3 separate regions of the Homo sapiens genome follow, and all the other regions are linked to region 2. The links come from fine-mapping of genetic effects on gene expression. A gene starts in region 2. Each other region holds a variant in brackets. All regions are shown on one strand. Distances are from middle to middle.

What was found. PIP is the estimated chance that this variant, and not a neighbour inherited with it, causes the effect.
Region 1: its variant is the best candidate, but not a certain one, in a credible set for the expression of TIAM2 in lymphoblastoid cells (GEUVADIS, PIP 0.80).
Region 3: its variant is fine-mapped to the expression of TIAM2 in whole blood (TOPMed, PIP above 0.99).

The regions. Positions count from the first base shown.
Region 1 is chr6:155,182,259-155,186,480 of GRCh38, reverse strand. It overlaps TIAM2 (TIAM Rac1 associated GEF 2), which reads right to left. Exons shown (of 27, transcript NM_012454.4): 13 at 4,163-4,222; 14 at 2,981-3,244. Among named protein-coding and RNA genes, the nearest start is that of CLDN20, 80 kb to the left of the region's middle. RefSeq lists enhancers at 1-314, 315-1,122. The variant C/G (reference allele first, on the strand shown) is at 2,294.
Region 2 is chr6:154,993,009-154,997,230 of GRCh38, reverse strand. TIAM2 (TIAM Rac1 associated GEF 2) reads right to left here and starts at 1,916. Exons shown (of 27, transcript NM_012454.4): 1 at 1,739-1,916. RefSeq lists enhancers at 809-1,414, 1,415-2,022 and silencers at 1,659-1,738, 1,829-1,968.
Region 3 is chr6:155,224,065-155,228,286 of GRCh38, reverse strand. All of the region lies in intron 15 of TIAM2 (TIAM Rac1 associated GEF 2), which reads right to left. Among named protein-coding and RNA genes, the nearest start is that of CLDN20, 38 kb to the left of the region's middle. RefSeq lists an enhancer at 3,334-4,222. The variant C/G (reference allele first, on the strand shown) is at 2,345.

The DNA of each region.
Region 1 (4,222 bases), 190 kb before region 2:
ACAGAAGTTTATTTGGAAGGTGACCCCGAGATTCCCAAAGGAAGGGGTAGGGACAGTGAGGCAAGAAGGGCAGGAAGCCCATGGGAGGTGTGAAAGCGAGGCTGCTGTGTACAGCTGGGGCTCATTCCAGGGCCCATCTGCAGAGCTGTGTAGACTGCACCTCAGAACCGTTTCCACCAGGGTAAAGAGGCTGGGGTAGCATCCACCAAAGCCCAGAACTCCCTGGGTGAGTCAAAAAACCAGTATAGGGCAGCCCAGGACCTGAACCCACGTCTGACTCAAAACCTGTATGCTTGTCACCCTGCCATCTCTCAGAGTTTCCACAAACACAGGCTTCTCTTGTCATTCAGATGTTGCATATGAATGAGAGACCTGGTCTTTTTTCACTTTTATCTTTTAATCCACCCACCTACCCTTATTTTCTTTTCCCCTCAACCTTCAAAATGGAAGACTTCCTTCTGAGATGTTTGCCCAAAGGCATGTAACTTCCTTCACAAGCAACGCAACTACCTCGAAAAGAAAAAGAAAAGCCTCTGTTTGTGGTGTCTGGGGAAGGAGTCTGCTGGGGCTGTTTTTTCCAGCACAGGCGACATCACTATGGAACAGCCACCTGGAGCTTAGGAGAGGGGAGGAATGGTAAAGCTCAGGGCAGAGGTGGGCGGGGCGCTGCCTGGGAGACTGTCACACCCACAGAGCACAGTCTTGCCAGGACACCAGGAAAGGGTTAGTGGCTCCCACTAGGCTGGTAGTGGAAGAACCTGCAAGATTCCATCAGGAGGACGTGATGTGGACAAGCACCGTGCCTGCCTGGCTAACTAAGCTCTCTGTCCACACAGACATTGGTTGTAAAGGATTAGACAGTCCGAATGGCTGCCTAAGATGAGTAATAGAATAGCTATTTAACAGATCCAGGACTGCCTCTTTATTCTGTTTCCTTGCCAATAAATAAATAAATAAATAAATAAATAAATAAATAAATAAATAAATAAAAGTGGCTTAACTCACCTGCTTGATCCTTACTATTTAAAAAAAAATTTAAAAAGAAAAGAAAAACAGCCGGGCGCGGTTGCTTACACCTGTAATCCCAGCACTTTGGGAGGCTGAGGAGGGTGGATCGCTTGAGGTCAGGAGTTCAAGACCAGCCTGGCCAACATGGTGAAACCCCATCTCTATTAAAAACGCAGAAATTAGCCAGGCGTGGTGGCATGTTCCTGTAGTCCCAGCTACTTCAGAGGCTGAGGCAAGGGAATCACTAGAAACCGGGAGGTGGAGGTTGCACTAAGCCAAGATTGCGCCACTGCACTCCAGCCTGGGTGACAGAGCAAGACTGTCTCAAAAAAAAAAAAAAAAAAAAAAAGGTAAATTTGCCCCTTTCTCTACTTTCTACAGGAATTCATTCCCGCAAGTACCAAAAGTATTATAGCCTCTGTGGTAATTTCTTATTATGATAAAATACATAGAGACATAACACAGGTAGTGAATGTATCCCTCAAGAGTAATGAATCCAACAAATGGACACATGTATGTATTATATGGAATACTCAGGCCCATAACAGCAGCCCAGGGTAGCTGAATGATGGCCCTAATATACCCAAGTAATTAATAAGTTCCATCATAATTTTTGTTTTATGACATTCACTTTTATATGCCAATAGTCCATTTAATGGCATTTTAAATTAGAGGAAAGCCCCAAGAGAGGAGGAGAAAGCACGAGATACCTTATTGAATCGCAAATCTTACCATCTGATTTTTTAATTCCAAAAATGACCTAATAAACTTCCTTTATAATTAAATCAATCCTAACAACTTCTCTTTGGTGTTTTTTCATTCATTTTTGGTAATCATGCAGAGATTTCAATTGGAAATCCATTATTATCGTAATTAAGTATAAAAATTGCTCTGTGTTCTCCCAGGAAAAAGACCCCACACTTGGTCTCCTGTGGAGCTTGACCCGGGCTCTCCAGAGGTATAAAGCGAAACTACTGGTTTTCAGTACTAGCCGAGCCCCTAATTTACTTGACTGCAGTACATGAAATACACATGAATGATCAACTCAAAACTTCAGACCTTCAAATGATTTCCTCATATGGAAGTCTTACCGTGAGAAAACTAAACTGGCACACAGTTTTTCATTTTTAGGCCTTCACAAAGTTTTAAAATTCATGACCTACATTAAAAGTTTGCTGTTTACTGGCCAGGCACGGTGGCTCATGCCTGTAATCCCAGCACTCTGGGAGACCGAGGCGGGTAGATCACCTGAGGTCAGGAGTTTGAGACCAGTCTGGGCAACATG[C/G]TGAAACCCCACCTCTACTAAAAATGCAAAAATTAGCGAGGCATGGTGGTACACGTTTGTAGTCTCAGCTACTCAGGAGGCTGAGGCACGAGAATCTCTTGAACCCGGGAGACAGAGCTTGCAGTGAGCTGAGATTGTGCCACTGCACTCCAGCCTGGGTGACAGAGTGAGACTCTGTCTCAAAAAAAAATAAAAATAAAAATAAATTTTAAAAAAGAAAGTTTGCTGTTTATTAATAAAGTAGTACTTAACAAAAGATATAACTGAACTGAAATGCACGGGCTGTTCTAAGAGCCCAACAGAAGACTGCAAAATGGTTGTGCCTTAGATTCAACTAAATAAGAAAAATCTTTCCACTTTGGCATTTATGCAGGCTTTCATCTGCCTTCAGTCACAAAGGAACTACAAGACTAAACATTATGGGTGATTTTTAAAGAGTCCATGATTTTTTTTTAAATGTTATTTTGTGCAAAAATAATTATTTTCTATTTTAATGAAAGCGCTATAATTACTAAAACGCATGAAATTTTGATAAAATCTACTCCAGTTGGCATCTGTGTTCTTCTAATAAATTAGAAAACATTCTTTGAACAGCTTAAATAATCTGAGTTTGCAAGCAAAATTACAGCCTAAAAATATTGGCTGTTGATACCAGCAGTTAAGAAGGAAGACAGAACAAAGCCTTACCATTGGCTGTATTCTTTTTAAAGTTATCCAGGAATTCCTCCAGCAGTTGGGACTGGTTAGGAGGGGGCAGCAGACTCTTCTGGTCCCTGGAGAACAGGTCACTGTCTGACCAGGATGTACACAGGGTTGCTTTTGTGTCCGGAGGCCGGGCAATCAGAGTGAGTCCGACGCTCTTCTCAGAAAACAGGGCCTCCATCTGCTTAAGGTCAAGATCAGACACAGCTTCCCCATTTAAGGTCATGATCTCATTGCCCTTTCTCAGCCCTGAGAAAAAGGAAGGAGAAACAGAAAAAAGAGAGAGGGATTACTGTGAGAAATATTTTCAGATGAAAGAAGGCTGCAAACTCAAACCATGTACTCGTAGGGACTGTTTTGTTTGTTGCTTTCTTCAAAGAAAGTGCCAGCCAGGCACAGTGGCAGGTGCCTGTAGTCCCAGCTAATCAGGAGGCAGAGACAGGAAGATCACTTGAGCCCAGGAGTTTGAGGCCAGCCTGGGGCTATATAGCAAGACTTCGTCTTTTAAATAAGAAAAACAAAAAAGAATTAAAGGGCCAAAATGTATAGTATTTAGATGCCACTAAGAGCAAAACAAATGTTAGCTCTCTCACAGCTACTATTCGAAGAAACAGTTTGAAAGATCTCAGCTCACTGCAACCTCTGTCTCCCCGGTTCAAGAGATTCTTGTGCCTCAGCCTCCTGAGAACCACTCATTCGTTGTTTTTTCTAGTGTTCCCATGTTAACTTTGTTCCATCCGTGTCCGCCTGTCTGTCTCACACTCTCTTCCTCCTTCCCTCTGTCTATATATATGTATACACTTACTCTTTTAAACACACACACACACATGCTCTCTCTATATATAGGCATATGCATTTTCTTTCTTTTCTCTCTCTCTGTCCTTTTTTACGGAGGCAGGAGTCTCACTCTGTCTCCCAGGCTGGTCTTGGGCTCCTGGGCTCAAGCAATCCTCCCATCCTCCCACCTCAGCCTCCTGAGCAGCTGGGTTTATGCGAGCGAGCCGCTGTGTTTGGTCGCATTTCCAATTAAACTCTTACGTTTACTTTCTTTAAAATTCCAGGAGCAACCTTTTTCTGACAAAACTGTAAGAAGAAACATTCACTAGCCAGACTGTATCCCACAGTTTCAAATTAAGAGGCAACAGGGGCACGGTGTGCCACACGGACCTTCCCCATACGCCAGGCCATCGGGAAGAACGTCGCTTATAAATATCCGGCTGAGATGCT
Region 2 (4,222 bases):
ACACATTAAGAATGCGTGGGTAATTGACAGATGGGCAAGAGGAGTAAGAACAGTGTAAGCAGAATTTCATTCATTCCAAACAATGGTCTGGAAATAACAACTTCTGAGTAGCTTGGTGTGTCTAGAGCAGGCAGTGTGCAAGCGGGGGAGAGCCAGGAGGCCTGGGGAAAGTCAGTAGATGGAACTGGAAAGGCAGGCAGGTGCCACATTATGAAGCATCTTAGTATGGTATGTGAAGGTGTTGAAAGCTGATTCTGAGGTCATTAGGGGCGTGTTTTGCCACAGTAAATAATAAACTCTTCTTCAGTTATACCTTGCCATGTTCTTTTACATTTACCCAACACAAAAACCTCTGACACCCTAAAGCAACAAGTTTTATTTTCCTATAAAGTGAGCAGGTAAAATCCGGTGGAACAAAAGTTTGCTTACAAAACTGCACCAATCATGATACTATATTTTTAAAACATAACAATCTTAAGCACATCAGGAAATACTTCTAAGAGTGTATACACACAAGTTCTACTGGTTAAGCCCAAATTATAAAACCATGGACACTTTTTTATCCAGAGCCTAGGACTGAAACATTTATAGCATATGATCCGCACCTGTACGAAACTTGGTAAGATTTTAGAGACACTCTGGCTTAAATCTATTGGAAAGAGAACTGGAGATAGCCGGTGTTGTCTGTTAAAATAAGGTGGTCAGCATCATTTGGGGAGCAAAAGGTAGAATGTGTGAATAACCATGAGAAGAGAATCCCAGGCCCTTCATCGCATAGTAAATAAAGGTCTCACCATTACCCAAGGAGGCTGAGGAGTGTCACCAAGTGGCCTCTTGCCTGAATTCTGCAGAGAAAAGCAGGAAAACCTCCCCCTGAATGAAATTATCTTTGGAATCAAGCAGCCTTCTCCCTCTTTAAATAAAGTTAACCTATTTGTCTATTTTAAAAAAACGGCATGCAAGCTCATCAATATTAAATTTCGCCGCTCCTTAAAGATAGAAATACCTCGTGCAATGTTACTCCCAGACCTTTCCAGCGGCTGTCAGCAACGAATGGCTGGAAGAATGGACTCTTTTCTTTCTGAACTGTTTTTGGTAAATAGGATCCATTAGGGGCACAACGTGTCGGCTTTCACAGAAACTTGGCACCTCAGCCCCCCCAGGAGCCGCGCCCGTCCGGGATGGCTCCCGCGCTCGGAAAGGCCGGAGGGGCTGAGCAGGGACCGCACGGTCTACACTCGCTGAGCCGACCGCCTGGGATCCTGCTTCGCCGCAGCGCCTTTCTGAGGCTCCGAGGTCGCCGGGCGGGCGTGGGCGCAGCGGGCGCTCCCCTCCGGGCACCCACGGCTCGGCTTTGGGCGAGAACCTCGGTATCAGGAGGCCGGGGCGCCGCCTCCTCCCATCCGGGATGGGACCGGGGCTGAAAGTGGGTCCTGGCGTGTCGCGCAGCGCGAGGGGACCAGGGGACCTAGTTTCAGAGCCTTCTGGAAAGTGCTTCGTCCCCCGTGCCAGGCTGTGCCCGGACGCTGCCGCCCTCCGGGGAGAGGGTGCCAGGCCGCGCCCCGCAGCCGCGACCTTCCGCGGGACTCCCAGGAAAGCGGGGGCAGAGAGGGGCGGCCAACAAAGGGGAAGGGAGGGGACCGCCGGCCGCGCGCCGCCCCGCCCGCAGGGGACCTGGAGCCGCCGCCAACCAGCGCGGGTCGTCGCCCTCCTGCGCCCTCACCCGGGCGCCCCTTACCTCGGGTCGCGCGCCGGGCTCGGTGGGGCCGGTCGCGCGCCGCCCTCCGCTACCCTCGGCGCGTGGCCCTCGCGGGAACGCCGGGAGGAGTTGGAGAAGTTCTGGGGGTCACTTTGTTCTCCACTTGGACGCGCGCTGTGCGCCTGCGGCGGCCGCGGCCACAGTTACGGTTACCGCTGCCCCAGCCCCGCGCGCAGCGCCTGCCAGGCCCGAGCCGCGACCGCACCTCCCGCCCCGCCCCGCCCCGGACACGCCCCAGCCCCGCCCAGCGTCAGGCCCAGGACCCCCGCGCCAGCTCCCGGCTGGTCCCGGACCATGTCCCTCGCGCTTTCTTTGGAACAACACAAATAAAACAATTCAAGAAACATCGAGCACGCGCTCACTGTGAGCTGGGGGCTCTGCCCGCTACCGGGGATGCGATGCGCCAGTGCGACCCCGTCCCTTCCCCAAGGAATTTAAAGACGGCTCTTCCCGGGTCCCACCGAGGAAAGGCACGCAAAACTGAGGTCAGCGGCCGCAGAGACTTTCCATCTCCTTCCCCTTCTGAGAGGAGATGGCTTCGCAGCGGAGATGGCAATCGAGTCGGCACTCCAAGACCCAGTCGAATTGGGACTTTCCAGGTGGAGAAGCTGCGATTTTTATTATTATTTTTTCAGACTGAGTTTCGCTCTTGTTGCCCAGGCTGGAGTGCAATGGCGTGATCTCGGCTCACCGCAACCTCCGCCTCCTGGGTTGAAGCGATTCTCCTGCCTCAGCCTCCCGAGTAGCTGGGACTACAGGCACGCGCCACCACGCCCGGCTAATTTTGTATTTTTAGTAGAGATGGGGGTTTCATCATGTTAGTCAGGCTGGTCTCGAACTCCCGACCTCAGGTGATCCACCCGCCTCGGCCTCCCAAAGTGCTGGGCTTACAGGCGTGAGCCACCGCACTGGGCCAAAGCTGCGATTTTTATTAGAAAAGCCTGAGTGGCCCAGTGGGCCCAGATGCTGGGAAGGGCGAGGGAGCTAAGGAGACCCAGGAATGAAAGCTGCCTGGAATCACTCTCCTCGCCTTGAAAAAGGCTGCACCCTGGAGAGGAGAGGGAAGGGAAGGTAGATGCAGGCCATGTGTTAGGGTGGGTCCTACGAGAAGCAGCGCCCACTCAGGACTAGATGCGGAGGGTTTTCTTGGGGGAAATGGCCGTGGAACTAAATGAGGAGGGAGCCGTGAGAGCTGGAGAGGGCCGGACCTTCTGCAAATCAGAGCCCAAGTGAAGGAGGGAGGGAAGCACCCATCCCGGCCTCCCTGCAGTCTAAGAAAAGCTCAGCAAGATCATCCGTGAGCCCTTCAGCCAAAATTACGCATCATGGGGATCCCGATTCTCCCCGGAACCTGCCTGCCTTCGTGTCCATGCCGCCACCAGTCCTTGGCTGGGAGCGGCCAGGTGGGAAGGGTGGCGTTGGGCACAATCCCAGTGCTGGAGTTCAGAGCACAGCAGCCAGGGCCCTGGTCAGTTAGGTGCAGTGCGTGAATACGACCCAGTCTCCGTAACGGGAGATCCGTGGAGAACTGTGAGTCAAAAAGACAAATGAAATCAGCTTTCCCACAACACACCCAGTATCAAAAGGAAGCCTCCAGGCTTTGCGGGGATCGGACAGACCTGCTCTCCACCCTCAACCACCACAGGCTCTGTACACACCGAACTAGTAGTGACTGGCCCCTCCCACTCTGTAGGCCCTCCCCTGGTCTTGTCTGCATCTTTGCGCACTTGGCTCTGCCTAGGAAAATATCTTCCCACTCCACTCACTCTTCCATGCTCAATTCAAGCATCACCTCCAAAGACCTTTTCTTCCTTGACATTTATTTACTGTTTTGTGGGTGGGGTGGGGGGGGGCGGTGCTTGCTTTGTTTTGAGATGGAGTCTGTCTCTGTCGCCCAGGCTGGAGTGCAGCGGCACGATCTCAGCTCGCTCAACCTCCACCTCCCGGGTTCAAGTGATCCTGCCTCAGCCTCCCAAGTAGCTGGGACTACAGGCATGCACCGCCACACCCAGATAATTTCTGTACTGTTAGTAGACACGGAGTTTCACCATGTTGGCCAGGCTGGTCTCGAACCCCTGACCTCTAGTGATCTGCCCACAGCCTCCCAAAGTGTTGGGATTAGGGTGTGAGCCATGGCGCCCGGCCAACACTTATTTACTTCTTACTTCTGACTCACACCTACCACACTGAGACGGGGGGTGGGGGGGTGCTGGTATGTGTTTATTTTTCTTGCTTCTTTTATTGCATTTTTCGCACTATTTTAAAATATTTTTCTGATTATAAAAGTAACATGTTTGTTGTACAAACTTGAAAAAATATATAGAACCCAGATGGCTCTAATTCCTCTCCTCTTGTGAGACACCATCCCTTGACAGCCAAGTAACCAGAGTCTGAGCTCCCATACCACCCACGTGTGTACATATGGGTCCAACCAAGAGAGAGGCTACACAATGATTTCAACAG
Region 3 (4,222 bases), 230 kb before region 2:
GACAAATCTCCGTTAGCCACCAATTTCCTGGGCAGGTAAAGTCTATCCTACAGAAAACTGAGGACAAAATTCAGTCGCATACTCGAAGGGGGAGATCCCACATACTTAGGCTTAGCAGTTCAGGCTGTGTCCACCCAGCTTTGCTTAGGACAGCTCTGCCCAACTACCTGAGCCCAGACTCTCCCTTCACTAAGCCCTTCCTCCCTTTCTCTGGCTCCCTAGAAATTGATTTTCTTTCTAGTTGTAATCCATGTGGGTTCCCGGCTGCCTTAACCTAGAAAACGAAACAAAAAATAGAGCAGCACCTGGCTCCCAGGTACAGACCAAGCACTCTGCTCTGATAATAGTTCTAAGATGCTCAGAAAATAATTCGGTTGCGCCCATTCCAGTTCCTTGCCGACACTCCTTGGGCATCTTAGATGTGCTTCTAGACTGCTGAGGAGGCTGCATCCTCTGCTGGCTCTCTCCAGCTGTCACAGTCTACCTGCTTTTGGAACATAAGCCTTGGATCTCTATATCCTCACAGATTCCTCTTGTCGACGGGGGTGTAACCAACTTTGTAAATTAAGCTAAAGAACCAAAAAGTCGTGTCCAGATTTCTAACATCGTACCTTGCAATTTCACAAATACAGTCGCTCTACCTTTAAATCAATTGAAGAGTAAATACACCCATATGCCATGAGTCTGATACTTAAATACAGTTTTCTCCCCTTTCTTCTACACGCAGTGCCATATTCTCCTTACGAGGCAGTGTGGTGTCATGGGAAGAAGTGCTTTAGAAGCTGGCAGGGCTGGGCGCGATCCGTGGTACAGTCACTGCCTAGGACACACTGGCCTGCTAGTTGACATCTCTGAATTTGAGTTTTCTCATGCTAAATGGGGCTGGTAATATCTGTTCAATAGGGTTGTGGGGAAAACGGGTTTAAATGAAGTGATGTATTTAAAACACATTGTATTCGCCATGGGCTAAGTCTCCGCAGACTGACTCAGCACCCCTGCAGTTTACAAAGCCATTCCGCATGCCTAGTCTTTATTTCACCTCACAGCCATGAAACAGTTGTGGAAATGGAATCCCACTTTCTTAACAAATAAGGATTCAAGGGAGTGAATGATTTTTCCAAAGCCCACTGTGAGTGCATGGAAAGCTCCAGCAATTCTGGTCCAAGTATCTTTTCACTTTGTGCAACAGCAAATTAAGAGACAAACATCTACTTTCCTTTCCAACTTAGTAGAGCAGGAGGGAAAATCCTTCTAGTTAACTCTCCTGTTTCTTATGTATCCCACTCTCCGAGCACATACTGCAAATGTGCTGTTTGGGATGGCCTTCGCCACGGGACAGTCAGAGCCAACTCAAGGTGACAGCAACTCAGCAACAGAGACAGGGGCGCAAAACAAACAGCTTGACTTGCCCTGGATTATTCTTCTCCAGAAGAAACCAAGCCCCAGTTTCACTGATGGGGACAGACACACAGGGGCACGGGCTCTGACTTGGGGGAATGAAAGGGACTATGTCACCACCTGAATTTGTTGCAGGCAAATTATGAGTTCTTAAAGATTTTTTTAAGCATTTAAATTTCACCATCTGCAATCTTTTTTTCTTCCCTGCCCCCCGCCCCCACCCGAGATGCAGTTTCACTCTTGTTGCTCAGGCTGGAGTGCAGTGGCACGATCTCTGCTCACTGCAACCTCCGCCTCCTGGGTTCAAGTGATTCTCCTGCCTCAGGCTCCTGAGTAGCTGGGATTACAGGCGTGCACCACCATACCCAGCTAATTTTTTTTAGTAGAGATGGGGTTTCACCATGTTGGTCAGGCTGGTCTCAAACTCCTGACCTCAAGTGATCCACCTGCCTCGGCCTCCCAAAGTACTGGGATTACAGGCGTGAGCCACCACACCCAACCTACCATCAGCAATCTTTTGTTTCCACTTAAAAGCGGAGCCCACAAAGATGCTCAGCCAGCCAAGGGGGCTACTGAGGCTGAGCAGCCTTGCATCCCATTCCCCACTGGTACATTAGTATCTTATGACACCTTCAGCCGTCACACTTACTTCTACTGATGGCTGCTTTTTCAGGTTTCATGGATCAAAGATGCTTTTCATCGCTTATGAAGAATGGGATGGGGGCAGGGAGACAGGGTCCAGGTGCTATGATTTCGTCTGAAATCACATCCTCTTCATGCTTAGAAAGCCCTACACTTTCTCTTCTAATATTGGCTTAAAACAATGCTTGGAATCTGGTTTCAAAAAAATTGTAGCTTCTGGGAGGAAAGTTATAAGTATATAAAACATCAATTACATGTTAATATCCTGGCAACCTTAATTAAGCAGGGGTACTGCCAAGGGCTA[C/G]TTGCCTTAAAGTGAGCACAGATACCCTGTGTGCCCCTTTAATTATGGTTTTTGTTCAGTGTTTTTTGCTGGATTTGAGTAATGCAACAGTCACATCTGGCACCCTCATCAACAGGTTCTCAAAATAATGATAATCTTATATGGAACAATACCTATCTTTATTTATATAAGTATTTATCTGAGACTTTACCACTCTATAATCTACACTGACTTCTAACAGAAATGGAATAAGATTTAAACTAAGACAACTATCATTTTCAATAAATAACTTGACAGTTTTGATCAAACTTCTTAAAAATAGAAATCAATAAATACATGGGAACCAAAGCCAGGTATCCCTGGTGGTGAGAAGAGCTGGGGATCTAGAGAAGGCAGCAGAACCAGGACACTCAGGCAAGAAAAAGATGGAAGAGACAGAGTGAGGGTGACAGAATGTGAACAGAGACTTTCTTTAAAGCCCCACACTTAGAAGTTACCTGTAAGCCTCACGTTGTATTACTGCTTGATGGTCCACCTTTCCCCATCTTGGTAACTCATCTGTATAAGCCCCAAATTCAAGACCTCGGTGCTCAAATGAGAGGAAGGCAGAGCACCAACCTGTCCTGATGGGTGTGTCACCCGGGCCCTCAGACTGCCCTTTATCTATGCCTGAATGAACCAAGAAGGGAATAAACTCTTAAAAATCCCAGCTGAGTGCATTGGCTCATGCCTGTAATCCCAGCACTTTGGGAGGCCGAGGTGGGTGGATCATCTGAAGTCAGGAGTTCGAGACAAGCCTGGACAACATGTCAAAACCCCATCTCTACCAAAAATACAAAAATTAGCTGTGTGCAGTTGTGCATGCCTGTAATCCCAGCTACATGCGAGGCTGAGGTGGGAGAACTGCTTGAACCTGGAAGGCAAAGGTTGCAGTCAGCCAAGATCGCACCATTTCACTCCAGCTTGGGTGACAGAGCGAGACCCATCTCAAACAAACAAACAAACAAATAAATAGAAAATCCCAAAACCAGCTGAGAGTGGCATGCAAGGTAGGAAGATGGCAGGACTCCTCCAGGCATGCAGCATTTGTGGTTTCTGAGCAGTTGGTGATGAAATCCCCGCTGTGCAGATGCCAGGCCAGAACCTTCTAAGCAACTGCACATCTCAGAGCCTCCTCCTCTGCCAGCTGTTTTCTGAAAACACCAGAGGACTCAGGTGGCAGCAAAGAATGAGAGAGCGCAAAGGCAGGTGAATAGCAGAGGCGGCAGCATGCGCTGGAGGCTGAACAAACACAGTCGGGGTGTGGAAGGGGCAAGAACCAACGAAAGGATGAAAGAGGGAAAGAGAATTGGGGGTGCCTTTAAAACAAACCTCCATTCTCCTCCTTCCTTCCATACTAATGACACATCCATGTTTTTCTTGCCCTTTTCTTCATGTTATTATCAAGACAGCAGGAGACGGATTTACAAAACGAATGATCCCATCTTAACCTTCAGCAGTTAGAAGCTAGTGTTTGAGATGGTGAAAATACCATCATGTGTACCTGGATGAAGCACTTCCAGGCAGAGTTTTTCCATGACCCCTCCTCCCTCAACTCCAGACACATCTACTCATGACACACACATCTACTCTTAGCTGAGTCTATAGAGGAAATTGCAAAATGACTCAGAACAATTTCTCACAACTTACTTTTGCAAAAGCAAAAGCAGCCACCACTGTGGAGCCGGAACTTTATCACAAGGTGAGAATCTGCTATGAGTCATGAAAGGCACAGAAAATGCCTTGAAACTCAAACACATCTTCTTTCACTCAGTACAAGGTTTTCATTGGACTACAATCTCTACGCAAGAATATTGACAGAAGGCAGCCAGGTGACGATTTCAGAACTTTGAACAATGG